2 separate regions of the Homo sapiens genome follow, and region 2 is reported to be linked to region 1. Evidence: microRNA targets listed by miRTarBase, many of them from high-throughput screens and not tested one by one. Region 1 holds a microRNA gene; the other region holds the end of a gene's coding sequence. Distances are between the middles of the regions.

Region 1 (12,065 bases):
TGGGATTACAGGCATGAGCCACAGTGCCCAGCCTCTTTTTTTTTTTTTTTTTTTTTTTTTTGAGACTGTCTCCCTTTGTCATCCAGGCTGGAGTGCATTGGTTCAAACACGGCTCACTGTAGCCTCGATCTGGAGCCGCCACACCCGGTCTACTCTTGCAACTTGATGTTGCATGTACAGTCGTGTTCCATTTTACGGAGGAGGACACTGAGGCACAGAGGAATGAAGTTTACATGGTCACTGTCACTTTCTTAGTCCGTTCTGGCTGCCATATATAACAAAATACCATCAACTGGGTGGCTTATAAACAGCAGAAATTTATTTATCACAGTTCTAGAAGCTGGGAAATTCAAGATCAAGGTACCAGCAGATTCAGTGTCTGTTGAGGGCAAACTTCCTAGATGGCGATCTTTTCTCTAATCTCACATGGCGGGAGGGGCAAGGCAGCTCTCTGGGGTCTCTTTTATGAAGGCGCAGTGAGAAGCTCAGCAGGTTTGTGAAAAGAAAAAAAAATACATAAGGGCACAAATCCCATTCACCTAATCACCTAATCGCCTTCCAAAGGCTCCACCTCCAATTACCATCATGTTGGGGATTAGGTTTCATCATGTCAATCTTGGTGTGGTGGGTGATGGGGTAGAGGGCTGGTCTATAAACATTCAGACCATAATAATCAGTAAATAAACAGGCCCAGGATCTAACCCAGATATGATCAGTTACAGAGCTAGTGATCTTCACCAGCCTGGGCAACACGGTGAAACTCCTTCTTTACAAAAAATACAGGTGGTGTGCATCTGTGCTCCCAGCTACTGAGGAAGCTGAGGTGGGAGGATTGCTTGAGCCCAGGAGGTTGAGGCTGCAATTGCACCACTGCACTCCAGCCTGGGCAGCGGAGTGAGACTCTGTCTCAAAAACAAAAACCAGTGCTCTTCAAAAATGAAGTTTTTGAAATGGAAAAAGTAGGCCAGGTGCAGTGGCTCACACCTGTAATCCCAGCTACTCTGGAGGCTGAGGCAGGAGAATCACTTGAACCCAGGACGTGGAGGTGGCAGTGAGCCGAGATCGCACCACTGCACGCCACCCTGAGAGACAGCGAGATTTCGTCTAAAAAAAAAAAAAAAAAGGTTGGACGTGGTGGTGGCTCACACCTGTAATCCTAGCACTTTGGGAGGCCAAGGAGGGCAGATCATGAGGTCAGGAGTTCAAGACCAGCCTGGCCAACATGGTGAAACCCCATCTCTACTAAATATACAAAAATTAGCTGGGTGTGGTGGCACGTGCCTGTAATCCCAGCTACTCTGGAGGCTGAGGCAGGAATATCGCTTGAAGCCAGGACTTGGAGGTTGCAGTGAGCCAAGATCGCACTACTGTACTCCAGCCTGGGAGACAGAGCAAGCCTCCATCTCAAAAAAAGAAAAGAAAAGAAAAAAAAAGTCCAAGCGCGGTGGCTCACACCTGCAATCCCAGCACTTTGGGAGGCCAAGGAGGGAGGGTCATCTGGGTCAGGAGTTCGAGACCAGCCTGGCCAACATGGTGAAACCCCATCTCTACTAAAAATACAAAAATTAGCCAGGTATGGTGGCAGGCGCCTGTAGTCCCAGCTACTTGAAAGGCTGAGGCAGGAGAATCATTTGAACCCGGGAGGCGGAGGTTGCAGTGAGCTGAGATTGCATCACTGCACTCCAGCCTGGGCTACAGAGCAAGACTCTGTTTCAAAAAAAAAAAAAAGTGAAAAAGTAATACATGTATGTAATCCACAATTCAAATCACATCAAAAGTGCAACTACTTTTATCAATTTATGTATTTTTCCAGCAATTTTCCGTGTGTACATATGGTTTTCATGCATGTCAGCATCCTTCACACACAGTTCTGTACCTTGCTTGTTTTTTCCTCTTAGTATATCTCAAATTATTTATACTTCAGTACATGAAGAGTTTCCTCAACGTTTTTGTTTGTTTGTTTATTTGTTTTTGAGACGGGGTTTTGCTCTTGTTGCCCAGGCTGGAGTGCAGCGGTGCGATCTCAGCTCACCGCAACTTCTGCGTCCCGTGTTCAAGCGATTCTCCTGCCTCAGCCTCTCGAGTAGCTGGGATTACAGGCACGCACCACCACGCCTGGCTAATTTTTTGTATTTTTAGTAGAAACGTGGTTTCACTATGTTAGCCAAGCTGGTTTCGAACCTCTAACCTCAGGTGATCTGCCCTCCTTGGCCTCCCAAAGTGCTGGGATTACAGGCATGAGCCACCGCACCTGGCGCTTTTTGCCTATTTCTTTGAGACCTGGGGTTTTGGGTCACAAAACAGGCAAATGCCATGAGCCACCCTCCTCCTCTTTCTCCATCTTCTTGTGCTGCCTCAGGTCAGAGCACTTACCTGCTCCTGCCTTCTCACTGGGTTTCCTTGTCTCTGGCCTATTTGTCTCCAGAGGGGTCAAAACACTTCAAATCCTCCTATTTGTCTCTGTCCACTGTCAGGAGTTCCAGTTCCCAGAACCCCAATTTTGCCTACAAAATAGCGTGTCTTTTCACGGGGAGAGGATTTGTTGAGTTTTAGTGGGTACTCAAAAAGATCTAAAGCCAGTTGGGGGGGTTCACACATGTAATCCCAGCACTTTTGGGAGGCCGGCCTGTGAGGGTCGTTTGGGCGCAGGAGTTTGAGACCAGCCTGGACAACACAGCAAGACCCTGTCTCTATAAAAAATAAAATAAAAATAATTAGCTGGGCATAGTTGCGCACGTCTGTGGTTCCAGCTACTCGGGACGCTGAGGCGGGAGGATCGTTTGAGCCCAGGTGCTTGTTGAATTGAGCTATGAGTGCACTACTGCACCCCAGCCTGGGCAACAGAGTAAGGACCCAGTTTCTAAGAAAAGAAGATTCATTAGCTAGACGCGGTGGCTCACACCTGTAATTCCAACACTTTGGGAGGCCAAGACGGGCGGATCACTTGAGGCCAGGCGTTCGAGACCAGCCTGGCCAATATGGTGAAACCCCGTCTACTAAAAATACAAAATTAGCTGGGCGTGGTGGCTCACACTTGTAATCCCAGCTATTCGGGAGGCTGAGGCAGGAGAATTGGTTGAACCGGGGAGGCGGAGGTTGCAGTGAGCCAAGATCGCGCTACTGCACTCCAGCCTGGGTGACAGAGTGAGTACCCCGCCTCAAAAAAAAGAAAAGAAAAAAGATTCATGATCTGCTAAAGTTGAAGAAGTGGGGGAAAACATTGGAGTGTTAGCGGCGTCAAGATCGGGCGTGAGCAGAAAGGGCACAGCATTTGCAAAGGCGTGGAGGAGTGATTTTATTGCGTTCTATCCCTAGGAAGCAATGACTTGGCCTCTACCATTTGCAGAGCGCATTGGGACCCTGCTCCCAGAGCTGGTTTGCAGTCTGGGAACTGAGATGCGCTCTGGGACTTGTAGTTTTCCCCAGTGCCAGGAAACTCAAAAATCGAGACATCGGATCCCACCACGAGGTGTCGCCCTTGAGCGAGTACGGTGGGATCTATCCTATACTTCAGAAGGCTGTTGCAGACATCCAACAATCACAAGGAAGAACGGGAGTTTTTCTGATTGACAGATATGGTTCTCAATGATAGTCAAGATTCGGATGTTAAAGCCCGCCCTCTTTTGCCTGGTTGGCTGGAGCAACGAAGTGATATTTATATGAACCAATGGGAAATTCTTAGGGAACGAGGTAGTAGCTCAATCCCCAACACCATTGGTCCACATTGTCTACTGGCACGTCTGCCTGCCAATAAGATGGTGGAACTTCGCCAATGGGCAGAGCCAACGTGCCTTTTTCGGAAACACCCCCTTCCTCTCTTGACAACTTGCTTTCTGCCGCTATTGGCTGTTGCACAACAGTGACGGTTCTTTTGTCCAATAAGTCAGCAAGACGGTCCCCAGGGGGAAGGTTTACTCAACCATAGGCCCGTGCCTAGTTTTTATTGGCTAGTGTATCCGAGTGGCGGTGCAGCAGGCCAGTCGCGTGCGGCGCGAGTGCTTTGGGCGCAGCCCCCGGGGCCGGGGCGGGAGGTCGCTCGGGTCGGGTGTCGCCTGAGAACCGGATGAGGCGGCGACCGTGAGGCCGAGCCGGGAGCGGGCGTCTTGCCGAGGCCCGGGCGGGCGGGGAGCAACGGCTACAGACGCCGCGGGGCCAGGTCGTTGAGGGTCGGCGGCGGGCGAGGAGCGCAGGGCGCTCGGGCCGGGGGCCGCCGGCGCCATGGGCAACCGCGGGATGGAAGAGCTGATCCCGCTGGTCAACAAACTGCAGGACGCCTTCAGCTCCATCGGCCAGAGCTGCCACCTGGACCTGCCGCAGATCGCTGTAGTGGGCGGCCAGAGCGCCGGCAAGAGCTCGGTGCTGGAGAACTTCGTGGGCCGGTGAGCGGGCGCGGCAGGGATCGCGGGCGGGTGGCGGCCTAGGGCGCGGAGGGCGGACCGGGAATGGCGCGCCGTGCGCCGCCGGCGTAACTGCGGCGCTTGCGTGCCCGCGGCGGGGAACCGGACGGGGTCGGGGAGGCGGGCCCTGTGGGACGCCCTGGGCAGAGGACTCCCTGCAGGGGCTCCGGAGCAGGCCCGGGCCCCAGGGGCGGTGTCACGGGCCAGGGCGCCGTAGGACAGGAGGTGCGCTGGAACCCTGCGGTCCATCTGGTCCCAGCTTTCGTGGGTGAAGTCTGCCATCTGGTTGGCCGTGGGTCTGGGGTAGATCCCTCTTCTGCTCTTTCGGGCTGTCCATCAGAGGTGAAACCGGCCATCTAGATATCTATTGGGGCGACCGCTGCGGTCTGGCTGGCTTGTTCTTGTATCTGGAGCTGCCCCCGCCGTCTGGTTGGCTGTCTCTCTGTCCTGGGCAAGCCTCCCTGCCACCACCATTTGGTTGTCCATCTGTCCAGTCCCACCTGGCAGCCCCCTGCTGTCTGGCTAGCTGTCCAGGGTGACCTCTGCTGTCTGGCCGCCCATCCGTGCCCCTCACAGACTTTAACACTGAGCAGTCCCTCTGTTGGGTGACACCAGCTGGCCTCTACTGTCTGACTGGCTAGCTGACTCCTAGGGGACCCTGTTTGATTCTCTCTGGCTGACTCTTACAGCTTGATTCCTGGCTAGCGCTGGCTCCTCTCTTCCGTGTGAATTCTTCTGTCTGTCTGGCCATCTCCTAGTCTGCCCATGACTACCCCTGAGTGTCTGGCACAACGGCTCTGGAAAGGGGTGGTAGGAGGGTAGAGGGGAGAACAGAGCTGAAGGAGGAGGTTTGGACCCTACTTCCCCTCTCAGCTGGAAGGAGGACTCTGGGGGTACCTTACTTCAGGATTCCTTTCCGAGTGCTAGAACACAGGGGCCCGCCTCCCAGCTACAGCCTACAAATTGGGGGCCCTCCTTTGGAGCCTGGGAAGGGGCTTCTTGCGTGATCAGGCCTCAGTGGCTAGCGCTGGGATGTAGCCTTCTCTGGACAGCCTTGAGAAGCCGCGGTGTGCCCATCTGTCCAGTGGGCAAACTCCACTCTCTGGGGCTGTTTCCAGGATTCAGGAAGCAAATGAATGAGAACAGCCCGTGCAGCCACCTCTCCCTCCCACCAACCCCTCTTGCCTTTCTTGTCTCCCAGATGGGCGGCCACTTCTCCATTCCAGGAACTACTCATTTGTGGTGGTGTGGCTGCCAAATGATAACATCCTCCTCCTGTCATTATTGTCATTGTTATTGTTGTTATCATTGTCAAGGGATAATGTCCCTTCTTGATTCAACATCTTGAATCCCAAGTAAGGAGTGGGGTGGAGGCTGTGTTATCATCCCCACCTTAGCTGAGCTGGGAGGCTCAGAAGGGACTGTGATCACCCAAGGCCACTAGGCTGGCGTAAGGCCTTGTGTCTGCCATCCCAGAGCCTTGGGGCTTTGCTCCAAGCAGCACAAATCTCCTCTTTTGCTACCTTGTCTCTAGCTCATTGCCTTCTGTCTACCGTGGTGGAAAGGTGTGGACTTGCAGCCAGCTGGGCCTGGCCTGATCTCAGGCTGGACTGTGGTGTGGGCCCCTTTGAGTGACCATCTTCCTGCCTGCCCAGGCTTCTGGGACGGGGGTGGGGGGTGTTTGCAAAGCTCTGTCTCTTTCACTTGCCTTGTGACCTTGCACAGGTTGTCTTGGCCTCTCTAAGTCTTGGTTGACTCTCCTAAACAAGTTTATTTTATTTTATTTATTTATTTATTTTTTTTTTTTTTGAGACAGAGTCTCCCTCTGTCATCCAGTCTGGAGTGCAGTGGAGCAATCTTGGCTCACTGCAACCTCTGCCTCCCAGGTTCAGGCCATTCTTCTGCCTCAGCCTCCCGAGTAGCTGGGATTACAGGCGTCTACCACCAAGCCCAACTAATTTTTGTATTTTTAGTAGAGACGGGGTTTCACCATGTTGGCCAGGCTGGTCTCAAACTACTTACCTCAAGTGATCCTCATGCCTTGGCCTCCCAGAGTGCTGGGATTACAGGTGTGAGCCACCAAGCCTCGCCCCAGGAGTTCCAAGACCAGCCTGGGTAACATGACAAGATGCCATTCTACAAAAAATAAAAAAATTAGCCAGGTAGGGTGGTAGTCCCACACCTGTAGTCCCAGCAACTCAGGAGGCTGGCCCTGGGAGGACTGCTTGAGCCCAGGATGTCCAGACTGCAGTGAGCCGTGATTGCACCATTACCCTCCAGCCTGGGTGACAGAACCAGATCCGGTTTCAAAAAAAGAAAAGAAAAAGTGCTTACTTACCTAACGCACTGCCTGGCACATAGTAGGTCTACATGGATGGGGCTATTGTTGTTTATCTGGCTGGTTCCTTTGCTATCAGGGACAAAAGCTAACCAGAATGAAAGTGCTTTCACGTTACACACTTAAGCCTTATGAGGGAGGCATTGCTATAATCCCCATTTTACAGAGCAGGAAACTGAGGCTCAGATAGCTGAGCAGAACACTCTCACTGGAGGCTGTAAAGTGAGGAGTTAGGTGTTCTGGGTTGGGAACCTGGGTCTCTCTCCCATCCTTACCTCTCCTCAGTCCCTCTACCCCTTGCCTTTCTCTCCTGTCTACCATGGTGTCTGGCAGCTGCCGGCCAGTATGGAGCTGGTTCCTGTGGCGACCTCCTAGAATCCTGCAATGCAGGAGTTGCTCATTATATATATATTTTTACACCGAGTCTCACTCTGTTCCCCAGGCTGGAGTGCAGTGGTGTTATCTCAGCTTACTGCAACCTCCACCTCCCATGTTCAAGCGATTCTCATACCTCAGCCTCCCGAGTAGCTGGGATTACAGGCGCGCGTTACCACACCCGGCTAATTTTTGTATTTTTAGCAGAGATGGGGTTTCACCATGTTGGCCAGGCTGGTCTTGAACTCCTGACCTCAGGTGATCCGCCCACCTCGGCCACCCAAAATGCTGGCATTAAAGGTGTGAACCACCATGGCTGGCCTCGTTAAGAGTATTAATTCAGTACCTGAAAGCCAAAGTTGTAAAAAGGCCTCTCTTTGGGTATGAGGGGCTCAAACAAGGCTTACTTTTTTTTGGGGGGGTGTAAGAGATAAGGTCTCTCTTTGTTGCCGAGGTTGGAGTGGAGGGGTGCAGTCCTAGCTCATTGCAGCCTCGAACTCCAGGGCTCAAGCAATCCTCCTGCCTCTGCCTCTAAAAGCACTAGGATTACAGGTGTGAGCCATTGCGCCGAGCCTGGATTTTCTAAGGATGTGGTCCGAGTGGGAACAGCCCAGTTAGTTCAGCCCTATAGCTGGAAGTCCAGATCACTGGCTCTGGGGGCCAAGGCCTGCCTGCTGGGTCTTTTGTTTTACCTGCGTAGCTTTTGTTTTTAATAAGACTTTCCAGTGTTAGATTTCCAGTCAATATCCGGATTTCTTGTGGCTCTAAGACACTCAGATCTATAGAGTTCTGAGTTGTCATGCAAAGGCTGTGGGCCTAAGGCCTGGTTCCACCATGTCTGGCTGTGCGACTCGGCCACGTGGATTTGGCGTTCTGGGCCTCAGATTCCTTTTCTGTAAGCTGAGGGTGGTAACTGGTACCCTGGGGCCTAGATGGGTGATTGGGTGATGCGTGCCGAGTGCATGTGTCTTATACGCATGGTGGCTGTTGTTGTAATCAGTTTCACCTGGCGTTGCTGAGCCTTTGTCCCTTGTGGCAGTAATGGCTTCGATTTCAGAAGCACCAGTCACTGTCCCATCAGACTAAGAGTGGCCACTCCAGCTGCCACAGTCCCCACTACTCCCTAGCACTCACCCAGGCCTAGATCATTTTGCTTGGAGCCTCCTGGCCCTGGAACCTTTGAGTTTGAGACCCCTGGCTTGTCTGCGGTGCACCAGCAGATAGAACTTTGGCCCTAAGGAGAAAGGAGGGCATCACTCCCTCTTGACCCTTGTCATTTAGCCTCAGGGGCTGGCCAGAAGGAAGGCCTTAGGCATTCCCGCACCCTAGCCTCCCGAGTAGCTGGGACTGCAGGCACCCGCCACCACGCCTGGCTAATTTTTGTATTTTTAGTAGAGACGAGGTTTCACCATGTTAGCCAGGATGGTCTCAATCTTCTGACCTTGTGATCCGTCCACCTCGGCCTCCCAAAGTGCTGGGATTACAGGCGTGAGCCACCGCGCCTGGCCTGAGATAGGGTCTTATACTGTCACCCAGGCTAGAGTGCAGTGGCACCATCTCTGCTCACTGCAGCCTTGACCTCCTGGGCTCAAGCGATTCTCCTACCTCTCAGCCTCCTAAGTAGCTGGGACTACAGGCACGTGCCACCACGCTTGGCTAATTTTTCATTTTTTGTAGATACAGGGCCTTGCTGTGTTGCCCAGGCTGGTCTCGACCTCCTCGCCTCAAATGATCCTCCTGCATCAGTCTCCCAACGTGCTGGCATTACAGGTGTGAGCCACTGCGCCCAGCCTCCTCTTCATTAAAATACAAGTTATAATAGCACTTCTTTCCCTTTCTTTTTTTTTTTTGAGACGGAGTCTGGCTCTGTTGCCCAGGCTGGAGTGCAGTGGTGCGATCTCGGCTCACTGCAATCTCGCCTCCTGAGTTCAAGTGATTCTCCTGTCTCAGCCTCCCGAGTAGCTGGGACTACAGTTGCGAGCCACCACACCTGGCTAATTTTTTTTTTTTTTTTTTTGAGACGGAGTTTCATTCTTGTTGCCCAGGCTGGAGTGCAATGGCACGATCTTGGCTCACCGCAACCTCCCCTCCTGGTTTCAAGCCATTCTCCTGCCTCAGCCTCCTGAGTAGCTGGGATTACAGGCATGCACCACCACGCCTGGCTAATTTTGTATTTTTAGTAGAGGCGGGGTTTTCCCGTGTTGGTCAGGCTGGTCTCGAACTCCCGACCTCAGGTGATCTGCCGGCCATGGCCTCCCAAAGTGCTGGGATTACAGGCGTGAGCCACCGTGCCCGGCTAATTTTTCTATTTTTAATAGAGATGGGGTTTCGCCATGTTGGCCAGGCTGGTTCCAAACTCCTGACCTCAAGTGATCTTCCTGCCTTGGCCTCCCAAGGTGCTGGGATTGCAGGTGTAAGCCACCGCGCCCAGCCCCGTCTTCTTTAAAATAGGAGTTATAATAGCACTTCTTTCCCTTTCTTGAATAGGGATTAAGTGAGACAGTTTGGAGTGCTTGGCATAGAAGAAGTGCTTAAAACATTAGGTGTTGTTCGTTCATTAAAAAATGTTTCCTGAGTACTTTTACTGTGTGCCTGGGGACATGGCCCTGAGCAAGTTACCAGAACTTCTGCTCTGGAGGAGCTGGCCTTTCAGCAGGAAGCAAATAAAGGAGAAGCATGGGCCACTTAGTGGCTCAGGCCCACAATCTCAGCTCTTTGGGATCCAGGCGGGAGGATCACTTGAGCCCAGAAGTTGGAGACCAGCCTGGGCAACATAGACCCCGTCTCTACAAAAAATAAAAACATTAGCTGGGCATGGTGACACCTGTAGTCCCAGCTACTCAGGAGGCTGAGGCCGGAGGATGGCTTGAGCCTGGGATTTCAAGGCTGCAGTGAGCTCTGATCACGCTACTGCCTTCCAGCCTGGGCGGAAGAACGAGACCTCGTCTCAAAAAAAAAAAAAAAGGCGATAAGTATGATGGAAAAAAGGATCAAGGAGCAGGATGAGGGAGAGATCACAGTTGGAGGGGGTACATTTTATTTTATTATATTATTATTCTTTGAGACGGAGTCTCACTCTGTCTTCCAGGCTGGAGTGCAGTCACGCGATCTCGGCTCACTGCAACCTCCGCCTCCCAGGTTCACGCCATTCTCTTGCCTCAGCCTCCCGAGTAGCTGGGATTACAGGCGCCTGCCACCAGGCCCGGCTAATTTTTTGTATTTTTAGTAGAGATGGAGTTTCACCATGTTAGCCAGGATGGTCTCGATCTCCTGACTTCGTGATCCGCCCGCCTCGGCCTCCCAAAGTGCTGGGATAACAGGCGTGAGCCACTGCGCCTGGCCAGAGGGGGTACATTTTAAATAGGGAAATTGGTGACATTTGAGCAGAGCCTTGAAGGAGGCGAGGAAGGAACCCCTGGAGACGGGAAGAGAATCCAGTGCAAAGGTCCTGATGTGGGAGGATGCCCGGAGGCCAGTTTAGCAGGCCAGTGGAGGGAGATCAGATCTGGGAGATATTAGGGTGGGACCAGGCCTCTAGGAACATTGTGGGCAGGGAGGCTGTCTGAGCAGAGGGAAGTAAAGCTGGTGGCGCTACTGCTGTCCCTCTGGACCTGGCCAAGCTGAGGGCTCTCTCCTTTGATTTCCAGCTTCAACTCAGTTTTCTCAGTAAGCAGACTCCACAGGCATGTAGGCGCCCCGTGCCATTTTTCTTTTAATAAGAAGCAGCTGTGCCGGGGATGCTGGCGTTTCCAGCTGCGTTTTTATTTGGCCTTTGGTGATGTGTCCCTCCAGGGATATGTGGATGAGCCGCGGGGGCACTGCCTGTGCCTCAGTGGGTGCTGCACCAGTGCACATCGGATGCCCGTTGGCTCCTGTCCCTGACAGATGGAGGGGCACGTGATGTGTTCCTTGGGCTGGTTTGTCCCTTTAACAGATCTTATTAGTTTAGAGCCACTTGGAAATGACATCTTCTGTTTCCAGTGACTTTCCTTTTGGGCAAAGACAAATTGCATCTTGAAAAGGCCATACATGGCCGGGCATGGTGACTCACACCTGTAATCCCAGCATTTTGGGAGGCCGAGGCAGGCAGATCACAAGGTTGGGAGTTTGAGACCAGCCTGGCCAACATAGTGAATCCCGATCTCTACTAAAAATACAAAAATTAGCCAGGTGTGGTGGCGCATGCCTTTAGTCCCAGCTATTTGGGAGGCTGAGGCAGGAGAATCACTTGAACCCAGGAGGAGGAACTTGCAGTAAGCGGAGATCACGCCATTGCACTCCAGCCTGGGGGACAGAGTGAGACTCCATCTCAAAAAAAAAAAAAAAAGGAAAAAAGGAAAGGCCATGCAAGGCTCGGTTAGGGTGGTCTGCAGTGCTGGGCCTGCTGGAATTGGTACAGTCCAGAGGGATCTGTGGGAATATGGAAGGCTTGGTTCTGCCACACACCAAAAAAGTGACCTCACTTCTCTGGGCCTCAGTTTCCTCATCTGGAAAATGGGAACATGGTGGTCTCTGCCTACTGGGAGTGGACTGAGAATCACGTAGCAAATTGTTGTGAAACAGGCAGCATTTGTGATCTCGTTGGTTGGCTTTTGTCTCCTTTTATCTGGGATCAGGACTCTGATGACAGGTGTACGTTTCTTTTCTCTTGCTCTGTCCCCCAGACTGGAGTACAGTGGCGTAATCATGGCTCACTGCAGCCTCCAACTCCTGGGTTCAGGTGGTCCTCTCACCTGAGTCTCCTGAGTAGCTGGGACTATAGGCATGAGCCACCACACCTGGCTAATTACAAAAAAATTTTTTTGGCAGGGAGCGATGGCTCACACTTGTATTCCCAGCACTTGGGGAGGCCGAGGCGGGCGGATCACGGGGTCAAGAGATTGAGACCATCCTGGCCAACATGGTGAAACCCTGTCTCTACTAAAAATCCAAAAATTAGGTGGGTGTGGTGGCTC
Region 2 (10,740 bases), 36 Mb from region 1:
ATTTTTTGGAAGAGGAAACTGAGGCCCTGGATTCGGATTCCGTTCTGACGTTAATTATTCAAGAAATCATCAACAAACGGCAAGAGTGAATTCCAGGATCAAATACCCAGCCGCCTGGGTGTTTAGTGGGTCTCTCGAGCTCAACGCATCCAATACTGAGCTGATTCCATCGACCAAAATTCGCTCTTATTTCAGGTTTACCCATCTCAAGTGATGGTAAATCTCTGAGTTTTTGTTGTTGTTTTGAAACAGGGTCTTGCCTGTCGCCCAGGCTGGAGTGCAGTGGTGCAATCATAGCTCACTGCAGCCTGAACTCCTGGGCTCAAGTGATCCTCCTGCCTCAGCCTCCCCGGTAACTGGGACTACAGGCATGCACAACCATGAACAGGTTTTGTTTTGTTTTTTAACAGAATCTCACTCTGTCACTCATGCTGGTGTACAGTGGCACAATCTCGGCGCGCTGCAACCTCCGCCTCCCAAGCTCAAGCAATTCTCATGCCTCAGCCTCCTGAGTAGCTGGGATCACAGGCATGTGCCACCAAATCCGGCTACTTTTTTTGTATTTTTAGTAGAGATGGGATTTCACCATGATGGCCAGGCTGGTCTCAAACTTTGGCCTCAAGTGATCCACCTGCCTCAGCCTCCCAAAGTGCTGGGATTACAGGCGTGAGCCACTGTAACCAGCCTAACTTTTTATTTTTTTTTAGAGGCAGGGTCTGGCTATGTTGCTTAGGCTGGTCCTGAACTGTGAGCCACCACACCTGGGCTGGGGTCATCCTTGACTCCCCGCCTTCTCTCACACTCCACAAGTCACCAAGTAAGACATCCTGTTGGCTTTATCTTCAAAGCAATTCCAGAATCCAATCCCTCTCACTTCCTCTGCTGTCCCCACTTGGGTCCAGACACCGTTCCCTCCTGCTTGGACTATTACAGTGACCTCTGCATTGACCTCCTATCTTCTCCCTGTCCCCCTCAGCCTGTTTCCCACAGAGCAGCCAAAAGGACACTGTTTCAAACTGTCCCCATATAATAGCAAGTGAGTATGTGGAGCAACCTGAACCCTCATAAGCTGGTGGGGATGTAAAATGGTGAAGTCGCTTTAGGAAACAACCTGGCAGGCCGGGCGTGGAGGCTCATGCCTGTAATCCCAGCACTTTGGGAGGCTGAGGCGGGCAGATCACTTGAGGTCAGGAGTTCAAGAGCAGCCTGGGCAACATGGTGAAACCCCATCTGTACTAAAAATACAAAAATTAGCTGAGCATGGTGGTGCACGCCTGTAATCCCAGCTACTTGGGAGGCTGAGGCAGGAGAATCGCTTGAACCTGGCAGGTGAAGGTTGCAGTGAGCCAAGATCGCACGACTGCACTCCAGCCTGGGTGACAGAGTGAGACTCTATCTCAAAAAAAAAAAACAAAAAAAACCCTGGCAGTTCCTCAAAAGGTTAAACATAGAGTTAACGTATGACCCAGCAATTCCACTCCTAGGTGTATATCCAAGAGCAATAAAAACATACAAACACGTATATAAAAATGTTCACAGAGGCAATATTCATAATAGCCCAAAGTGGAAACAACACACGTTCATCAACTGATGAATGGACAAATGAAATGTGGTCTATCCAGACAATGGACTATCAATTATTTGTCAATAAAAGGAAATGAAGTACTAATACCTGCTACAACATGGATGAAAGTTGAAAACAGTATGCTGGCTGGGTGCGGTGGCTCACGCCTGTAACCCCGGCACTTTGGGAGGCCGAGGCAGGCAAGTTGCTTGAGCCCAGAAGTTCAAGACCAGCCTGAATAACATGGCAAGACCCTGTCTCTACAAAAAAACATTAAAAAATCAGCCAGGCACGGTGGCATGTACCTGCAGTCTCAGCTTCCCAGGAGGCTGAGGTGGGAGGATCACCTGAACCCAGGAGGTAGAGGCTGCAGGGAGCCGTGATTGCACCACTACTCTCCAACCTGGGCTAAGTGAAAGAAGCCAGTCACTAAAGGCCTGTATTGTATGATTCCATTTATATGATATGTCCAGAACTAGCAAATCTATAGAAGGCAAAAGTAGATTACTGGTTGCCAGGGGCTGGGAAGGTTGGAGGATGGCAGCTGTGGTGCAGGGTTTCTTTAGGTGGTGATGGAAATGTTTTAGAATTCATTGTGGTGATATTTGCACAACTCTGAATATACTAAAATACTGGTTTTTTCTTTTTTTTTGAGACTGAGTCTTGCTCTGTTGCCCAGGCTGAAGTTCAGTGGCGTGATCTCGGCTCACTGCAAGCTCCGCCTCCCAAGTTCAAGAGATTCTCCTGCCTCAGCCTCCCAAGTAGCTGGGATTACAGGCGTGCACCACCATGCTTAGCTAATTTTTGTATTTTTAGTACAGATGGGGTTTCACCATGTTGCCCAGGCTGCTCTTGAACTCCTGATCTCAAGTGATCTGCCCACCTCAGCCTCCTAAAGTGCTGGGATTACAGGCATGAGCCACCACGCCTGGCCACTAAAATACTGAATGTCTTTTATATTCAATATATTTAAAAACATTGAACTGTATACTTTACGTGGGTAAATTTTTTGGTAGGTGAATATATCTCAGTACAGCTATTAACCCTCCCCCCCACCAAAAAAAAAACTTTAAAAACTCTCTTTTATATGCTCAGAATTCTCCCATGGGTGCCAGGAAATAAAAACCAAAATCCCCACCATAGCCCACGAGGCCCCCATGATGTGACAGTCCTTACCTCTTCTCCCTCTCACCTCCCCACTCCAGCTGGCCTCCTTGCTGTTTTGCCAACATGCCAGGCAGAGTTTTGCCTCAGGGCCTTTGCACTGGCTATTTCCTCTGCCCAGGATATTCTTCCCCAAGATATTCATAAGTCTCACTCCTCCACCTCCTTCAGGTCTCTGTTCAAATGTCATCTTCTCAATTAGACCATTCTTTTTTTTTTAGACGGAGTCTTGCTCTGTCACCCAGGCTGGAGTGCAATGGCGCGATCTCGGCTCACTGCAACCTCTGCATCCCGGGTACAAGCGATTTTCCTGCCTCAGCCTCCCGAGTAGCTGGGACAACAGGCACATGCCACCACGCCTGGCTAACTTTTGTATTTTTAGTAGAGACGAGGTTTCACCATGTTGGCCAGGGTGGTCTCAAACTCCTGACCTCAGGTGATCCACCTGCCTCGGCCTCCCAAAGTGGTGGGATTACAGGCATGAGCCACCATCTTCTCAATTAGACCATTCTTGATCACTCTACTTAAAATTACACACTCCCTTGGCCAGGCACACTGGCTTATGCTTGTAATCCCAACACTTCGGGAGGCTTAGGCAGGAGGATCACTTGAGACTAGGAGTTGGAGACCAGCCTGGGCAACATGGTGAGACCCTGCCTCTGCCAAAAAAAATAAAAATTAGCCATGCATGGTGGTGTGTGCCAAGCTGCTTGGGAGACTGAAGCAGAAGGATCCCTTTAGCCCAGGAGGTCAAGGTTGTAGTGAGCCATGGTTATGCCACTGCACTCCAGCCTGGGTGACAAAGTGAGACCCTATCTCAAAAAATAATAAGTAAAATTACAAACTCCCCGCTTCACCACCCCACCCAATCCCCTCATATCTCTGGTCAGTTTTTCCCTATAGTCATCACCTTTAACAAACTATAGAATATATTTATTATGGTACCACCACCACCACCCCCAGCTTCCCTCCCTGGGACCCATTCCTGGTATATCCTTTTTAAGATCATGGTTCCAGCAAATAGACCATGTAGGGCACTGACTAAGGCCATGAACTCTGAAAATAGTGTGCCTGAATTTGAATCCTGGCTTTGCCACCTATGAGCTTCAGATACATTTTTGTTTGTTTGTTTGTTTGTTTGTTTTTGAGATGGAGTCTCACTCTGTCACCCAGGCTGGAGTTCAGTGGTGTGATCTTGGCTCACTACAACCTTACAACCTCTGCCTCCCAAGTTCAAGTGATTCTCCTGCCTCAGCCTCCCAAGTAGCTGGGATTACAGGCGCCCACCACCACACCTGGCTAATTCTTTTTTTTTTTTTTTTTTTTTTTTGAGACGGAGTCTCACTCTGTCGCCCAGGCTGGAGTGCGGTGGCGCGATCTCGGCTCACTGCAAGCTCCGCCTCCTGGGTTCACACCATTCTCCTGCCTCAGTCTCCTGAGTAGCTGGGACTACAGGCGCCCGCCACCGCGCCCGGCTAATTTTTGTATTTTTAGTAGAGACAGGGTTTCAGTGTGTTAGCCAGGTGGTCTCGATCTCCTGACCTCGTGATCCGCCCGCCTCGGCCTCCCAAAGTGCTGGGATTACAGGCGTGAGCCACTGCGCCCAGCCTCCACGCCCGGCTAATTTTTTAATTATTAGTGGAGACAGGGTTTCACCGTGTTGGCCAGGCTGGTCTCGAACTCCTGACCTGGTGAGACGTGACTTTCACCTTCCGCCATGATTGTGAGGCCCCCCCAGCCACGTGGAACTGTGAGTCTATGAAACCTCTTTTTCTTTAAAAATTACCCAGTCTCAGGTTATATCTTTATCAGCAGCATGAAAACAGACTAATACAGGTGGAGAGGATTAAATGGGTCAATATGTGTAAAGTGGTGAGAATAGAGTCCAGCACGTCATAAGTGCTCAAATAAGTGTTAGCTGTTATTTTTTGTAAGCACTAAAACCTTAAAAGGGAGACCCTTAAATATCCATCCATATTTACTTCAACCATTTTGGCCACTAAGTGACCTATGTAGCCCTAGACAAACAAATCTCTTCTCCTTTCTGACTTCAGTTGCCCCTTTTATGGAATGAAGTTGGAGTAATTGTTCCCAAGGACCTGCCAAGCAATAGCTTTTCCTGGAAAAACTTTTAAAAATAACTTTTATTCATTATTACTCTAAGTGAAACATAGGTCTATCCCTCACCCTACCCCCACCATAGAAGCTCCGTAGGGCAGGGTTTTTTTTTCCTGTTTTGTCCCCTGCTCTAACCCCAGTGCCTGGCTGGGCGCTGAAGATACAAGTGAACACAGCAGGCCTGGTCCCTGCTCTTTCCGAGCTCAAAGGGAGGTAGATCTACCCATGCAGATTCAAAGGTCAAAGCAGCAACACACACCCCATCCTTCTGACTGTGGATTCAGGTGGGGGCTGGGTCCTAGCCCTGGATCCCCCTTGCTTTGTGACCAGGGAAAGTAATGGCTCTTCTCTAAGCCTCCATTTACCCACCTGAGAACTGAGTATAATTTTACATACCCAATAGAAAAACAGGACGAGCACGGTGGTTCACGCCTGAAATCCTAACACTTTTGGTGGCCAAGGTGCAAGGATTGCTTGAGGTCAAGAATTCAAGGCCAGCCTGGGCAATATAGTGAGAGTTCATCTCTACAAAAAATTGGAAAATTAGCCAGGCGTTGTGGTGCATGCCTGTTAGTCCCGGCTGCTCAGGGGGGTTGAGGTGGGAGGATTGCTGAAGCCCAGGAGTTCGAGGCTGCAGTGAGCTATACCACTGCACTCCAGGCTGGGTGACAGATCAAGACCCTGTCTCAAAAAAAAATAATAAAAAATAAGAAGGAAGGAAAGAAGGAAAGAAGGAAGGAAGGAAGGAAAAGAGTAAAAAGGCAATTCACATAAGAGGAAATGCAAGAGCCAATAAGCACCCAAAACTATGTGTTACCTCAAGGAAAAGGGAGGAAACGTGCTAATTAAAACAGAACACAGTTTCTCCCCATAAGATTTGCAAAATGAAAATGATCAATAGCATCTATCGTTTGGTGAAGGGGTAGAAAACAGACATCTGAAAAACTGCTGTTAGAAATGTCAGCTGGGGGCAGTGCTAATGGATGGAAGTGTGGCAGTGTCCATTAAAAGTTCTTAAATTGGCATACTATTAATGACCAAGCAACTCTATTTCTAGGAATGGGTCCTATAAAAATACACACAGACATGCACAAAGAGGCAAATACAAGGACATTACTGTAGCAAGATTCATAATAGCAAAAGAATTGGAGAGCTGACAATAGGGTTAGATTATGAGAATCCCCATAATGGAGTCTTCTTTTTTTTTTTTTTTTTTTTTTGAGATGGAGTCTCACTCTGTCACCCAGGCTGGAGTGCAGTGCAGTGATCTTGGCTCACTACAACCTACACCTCCCAGGTTCAAGTGATTCTCCTGCCTCAGCCTCCCGAGTAGCTGGGACTATAGGCACACGCCACCACACCTGGTTAATTTTTGTATTTTTAGTAGAGACAGGGTTTTGCCATGTTGGCCAGGCTGGTCTCGAACTCCTGACCTCAGGTGGTTCACCTGCCTTGGCCTCCCAGAGTGCTGGGATTACAGGTGTGAGCCACCTCACCTGGCCATAATGGAGTCTTATATGCACCTATCAATAATAATATAGTGATAGGAAAATGTGTTACCTAAATTTAGATGAAATGGGCCAGACATGGTGGCTCACATCTGTAATCCTAACACTTTGGGAGGCCAAGGCAGGAGGATCACTTCAGCCTACGAGTTCAAGACCAGCCTGGGCAACATAAGGAGATCCCATCTCTACAAAAAGTTTAAAAATAGCTGGGCAGGGTGACGTGGACCTGTGGTCCCAGCTACTCAGGAGGCTGAAGTGGGAGGACTGTTTGAGCCTGAGGGTTGATGCTACAGTGAGTCATCATCACACCACTGCTCTCCACCCTGGGTAATAGAGCAAGACCCCATCTCAAAAAACAAAAGAAAAAATAAGTAGATTTAGACGAAATGGACAAATTCTTAGATGAATAGGGCCTAGCAAAACTGACACAAGAAAAAATAGAAAACCTAAATAGTACTATAACTATCAAAGAAATTCAATCCTTAATTTAAACCCTCCTCATAAAGAAATCTTCAGGCACAGAGATTTCACACAAAGAAGTGATAAACACTGCATACATATAGTTCAATTTATGTAAATATATAATTTCACACATATATTACATATATAACTATATGTATATTCATACATATATATTTATATAGTTATTTAGATTCATATATATATGCAAACACATAAACATGGGAGGATGCACATCGAACTGCTGATTATGATGACCGTCAGAGAGGGGATTTAGGGGCTGTCTGTTTCCCATGCTGTTCCCATTTTTGTGAAACCATATTTTTTTGTTTTTTGAGACAGGGTCTTGCTTGTCATCCACGCTGGCGTGCAGTGACACAATCATGGCTCACTGCAGCCTGGGCCTCCCAGACTCACATGATTCTCCCACCTCAGCCTCCTGAGCAGCTGATAGTTCAGGAATGACCTACCACACCCAGCTAATTTTTGTATTTTCTGTAGAGATGGGGTTTTACCATGTTGCCCAAGCTGGTCTTGAACTCCTGGGCTCAAGATATCCCCCTACCCCTGCCTCCCAAAGTGCTGGGATTATAGGCATGAGCCATCACATCCCGCCTGAAATCGTATTTATAACCAAACATAACCCAATCAAAGGTTAGATTCCTTGATGTAAAATAGCCAATGGTAGGAAGATGATGTTGAGATTCACCCTGGGACCTCCCTGGAAACTGCCATATCCACAGCAAACAGAAGTTGCTCAATAAATGTTAGTCCAAAGGAAAAAGAGCATTTCTCCCATTTAATCATTCAGTGAGAGTCCACCACATATGTTACACTGTGCATTTATTTACAAAGAGGTTAGAGAAACACACAGAATCTGGCCCCCCTTTGCACTGGGGAGTCACCATCGTCATAATAAATACAGTAATTTTAAAAAAGAAAAAAAATACTAGATTGGAACAGCTGAGGGTCATCAGGCTTCCCCCATTCCCTCTCACAGGGAGTGGGGGTCATGAGATAGAAACCATCTTCCTTCCCCTCTTCTACCTCCGAATCCTCCATAATTGTCCAGGGATCGAAGTGAAAGAGTCCTTCTTTCCAGGTGTTACCAACCCCTACTTGACCCTCAAAACCCCCAAATCAGTGCTCCTTCCCTTCCCAGGGCACTCTGCAGGGACCACCTGAGTCAGACACAGAGTCTCTGACCAGGGTGCCAAGGGGATATCTTAAGGGTCCAGGGACATGGAGGGGGCACTTTGTGAATGAGAGGGGGCCATAGCTGGGCAAGGAAAGGAGGAATGAGAGGGCTCATCAGGAATGAGAGGGAGAGCGGTGGAGGGGAACAAACAGACTAGGCTTCTAAACTAAAACGGGGAAATTCAAACCGAATTACCCCTTTTGCATACATGGACACTTACTGTACAGATGAGGAAAGTGACGCCCAGAGAAGGGGAACTGTCTTGCCCAAGGGCTTCCAAGCTAGAAGCTGAACTGGGTCAAACAGGGCTCCTCCCCATTCCTCTCGGTGGTGGTGGGGGAGCCTTTTCAACCAAGACTGTTAGGAGTGGGGAGAGTGAGGGGGGTCTTTGGAAGCAGAGAAAACGATGGTCTTTGGAAGGTAGATGTGGAAGGGTCAGTGGTTGGGAGTGTGGAGGTGCAGAGGCCATGAAGGGGGAGCCCAAGCAAATCCCCAAACTCACACTGTAGTCATGACCTTGAGAGAACCCGAACGGAAACGCAGTATCTTTTTCTTGAGCGCGTGGGAAGCTTTGATTTTCACGAAGACTTTGGCGGGGCCTGCGGGCGCCCCTGCACCTGCTCCACCCCCAGAGGCCGCGGTGGCCGCCACCAGCTGCTGCGGCCACACGAGGCCACCGCTGCCGTCTGAGTCGCTGGAGGCAGAGCTGAAGGCAGGCGATTCTCCCTCGCTGGCGCTCGATTCGCTCTCCCCGTAACCCCCGCCGACGCCTCCCGCAGGCCCCCGGCGTCCCAGGGGCCCCAGGCGCCCAGCCGAGCACTCGGAGTCGCTGCCCGCGCAGCCGTAAAGCAGACGACGCTGGGGAGCTGACGGGGACGGGCCGGGGCCGGGAACACGCGCCGCAGGGGCTCGGGGCCGCACGCGGCGCCCATCGGCAGCGTCGATCTCCGCAGTGGAGCGCCAGCGACGGCAGGACCCTGCGGCCTGGGCCGCCAGCGTGGGCGCTGGGCCGCGGCGTGGCCGTGGAGGCCGAGGCTCTTCCCGCTCCGCCGTGGGGTACTTAGGGGGCCCCGAAGGGACCGCGGAGGCGCGGCCCAGCAGGCTGGTCTCAGACTGGGAGCGCGAGGCCTTGCGGGCCCTGGGCGAGCCGCGGCGGCCCGAAGCCTCGGCCATGCGTCCACGGCGGCCGGCGGCCCGGGGACGCTCCCGGGGTGGTGACTGCTCCACGCTGCGGCCGCGGGTCAGTGGCGGCGGTTTGCGGCGGGCGGCGCGGCCAGGGAGGCCTCGGGTGGCCGCCTGCGCGCCCGGGATGTACTGCGCCTTCACCAAGCGGCCCTCAGCCGGGCTGTCGGGGGGTGAGGGGGCGGCGGGCGGCGCAGCGGGCTCGGGTGCCGCCTCCGACTCCCACGACGACGCCCAGGCGCGGCTCAAGGCGGCAGGGCTGGTGGGGTGGCCCCCGACGCGCTCCAACGAGGGCTCCCGCGCGGGTCGCGCGCTGCCGGGGGACGGAGACGCGTCGGGCGGCCGCTGGCGCACGCTGTTCTGGCGCCGCGGGCCGCCGTCCGCGCCCCCGGGACTGGTCCGGGGCTGGCCCGCCCCCCGGCGGCGGCGCCTGCGCAGGAGCGCCGAGATGTAGCCGTCCAGGGGCCGCCCTGCGCCCCCCGCGTCGGGCGAGTCGGTGGGAGGGCGGCCGCAGGGCCGCGGGCTGCGCATCGCCACGGCGTGCAGGGGGCTGGGCGTCAGAAAGGGCCCGGCGCGGGCCCGCCGCTCCGCCGAGGAGCAGGCCTCCGGGCCGGCGGACCCCCCTGCCGTCGGGTAGGGCGCTGAGAAGGACCGCGGCACCGCTGCCCGCGCGCCCACCACCTCCGGAGCGCTGGGACTGGCGTCTCCTAGGGAAGGAAGGCCAAAAAAAAAAAAAAAAGAGAGAGTGGAGGGGCTCTCAAAGTCCTTTCCCATTTCTCATCCAGCCCGGAAGGGGCGGGTTGCCTCCCTCCCTTCCATCCTCATCGCAGCAAAAACCCTGCTCTCACACCTTCCTTCTTGTAAAATTCATAATAAAATCTTTACAGGGTCCTACAAGACCCTGCGTGACTTGTCCTGCCTCTGCCTCTGCCTCTCCAACTCTCACAACATCTTACCCCCTATTTTTTTTTTTTTTTTTTTTTTGAGACGGAGTCTCGTTCTGTCGCCCAGGCTGGAGTGCAGTAGCCCGATCTCGGCTCACTGCAAGCTCCGCCTCCCGGGTTCATGCCATTCTCCTCCTGAGTGGCTGGGACTACAGGCGCCCGCCACCACGCCCGGCTAATTTTTTTGTATTTTTAGTAGAGACGGGGTTTCACCGTGTTCGCCAGGATGGTCTCGATCTCCTGACCTCGTGATCCTCCCGCCTCGGCCTCCCAAAGTGCTGGGATTACAGGTGTGAGCCACTGCGCCTGGCCTTTTTTTTTTAAGACAGGTTCTTGCTTGCTCTGTCACCCAGGCTGGAGTGCAGTGGCGCAATCATAGCTCACTGCAGTTTCCAGCTCCTGGGCTCAAGGGATCCTCTCGCCTTATCTTCCTGAACGGCTGGGACTACAGGAACGCATCACCATGCCCTGCTGATTTTTTTATTTTTTGTAGGGATGGGGTCTCACTGTGTTGCCCAGTCTAGTCTCCAGCTCCCAGGCTCAAATAATCCTCCCGCCTCAGCCTCCTAAAGTGCTGGGATTACAGGCATGAACCACTGAGCT

The links. Region 1 holds the annotated microRNA hsa-miR-638 (AGGGAUCGCGGGCGGGUGGCGGCCU, at 4,395-4,419, shown strand). A microRNA usually pairs through its seed, bases 2 to 8, with sites in the 3' UTR of a target mRNA and lowers its output. Matches are read on the target gene's strand: a 7mer-m8 pairs with bases 2 to 8, a 7mer-A1 pairs with bases 2 to 7 and ends in A, and an 8mer does both.
Region 2: the mRNA of DACT3 is a reported target of hsa-miR-638. Seed matches in the 3' UTR shown: 7mer-m8 at 7,885-7,891.

The regions. Positions count from the first base shown.
Region 1 is chr19:10,714,025-10,726,089 of GRCh38, forward strand. MIR638 (microRNA 638) reads left to right here and starts at 4,380; the gene lies at 4,380-4,479. DNM2 (dynamin 2) reads left to right here and starts at 4,055. Exons shown (of 21, transcript NM_001005361.3): 1 at 4,055-4,379. The coding sequence starts at 4,219. RefSeq lists silencers at 1,593-1,782, 3,914-4,583 and enhancers at 3,134-3,323, 3,514-3,633, 5,074-5,213.
Region 2 is chr19:46,639,973-46,650,712 of GRCh38, forward strand. It overlaps DACT3 (dishevelled binding antagonist of beta catenin 3), which reads right to left. Exons shown (of 4, transcript NM_145056.3): 4 at 7,579-9,900. The coding sequence ends at 8,510. Among named protein-coding and RNA genes, the nearest start is that of GNG8, 9.1 kb to the left of the region's middle. RefSeq lists a silencer at 8,477-8,526.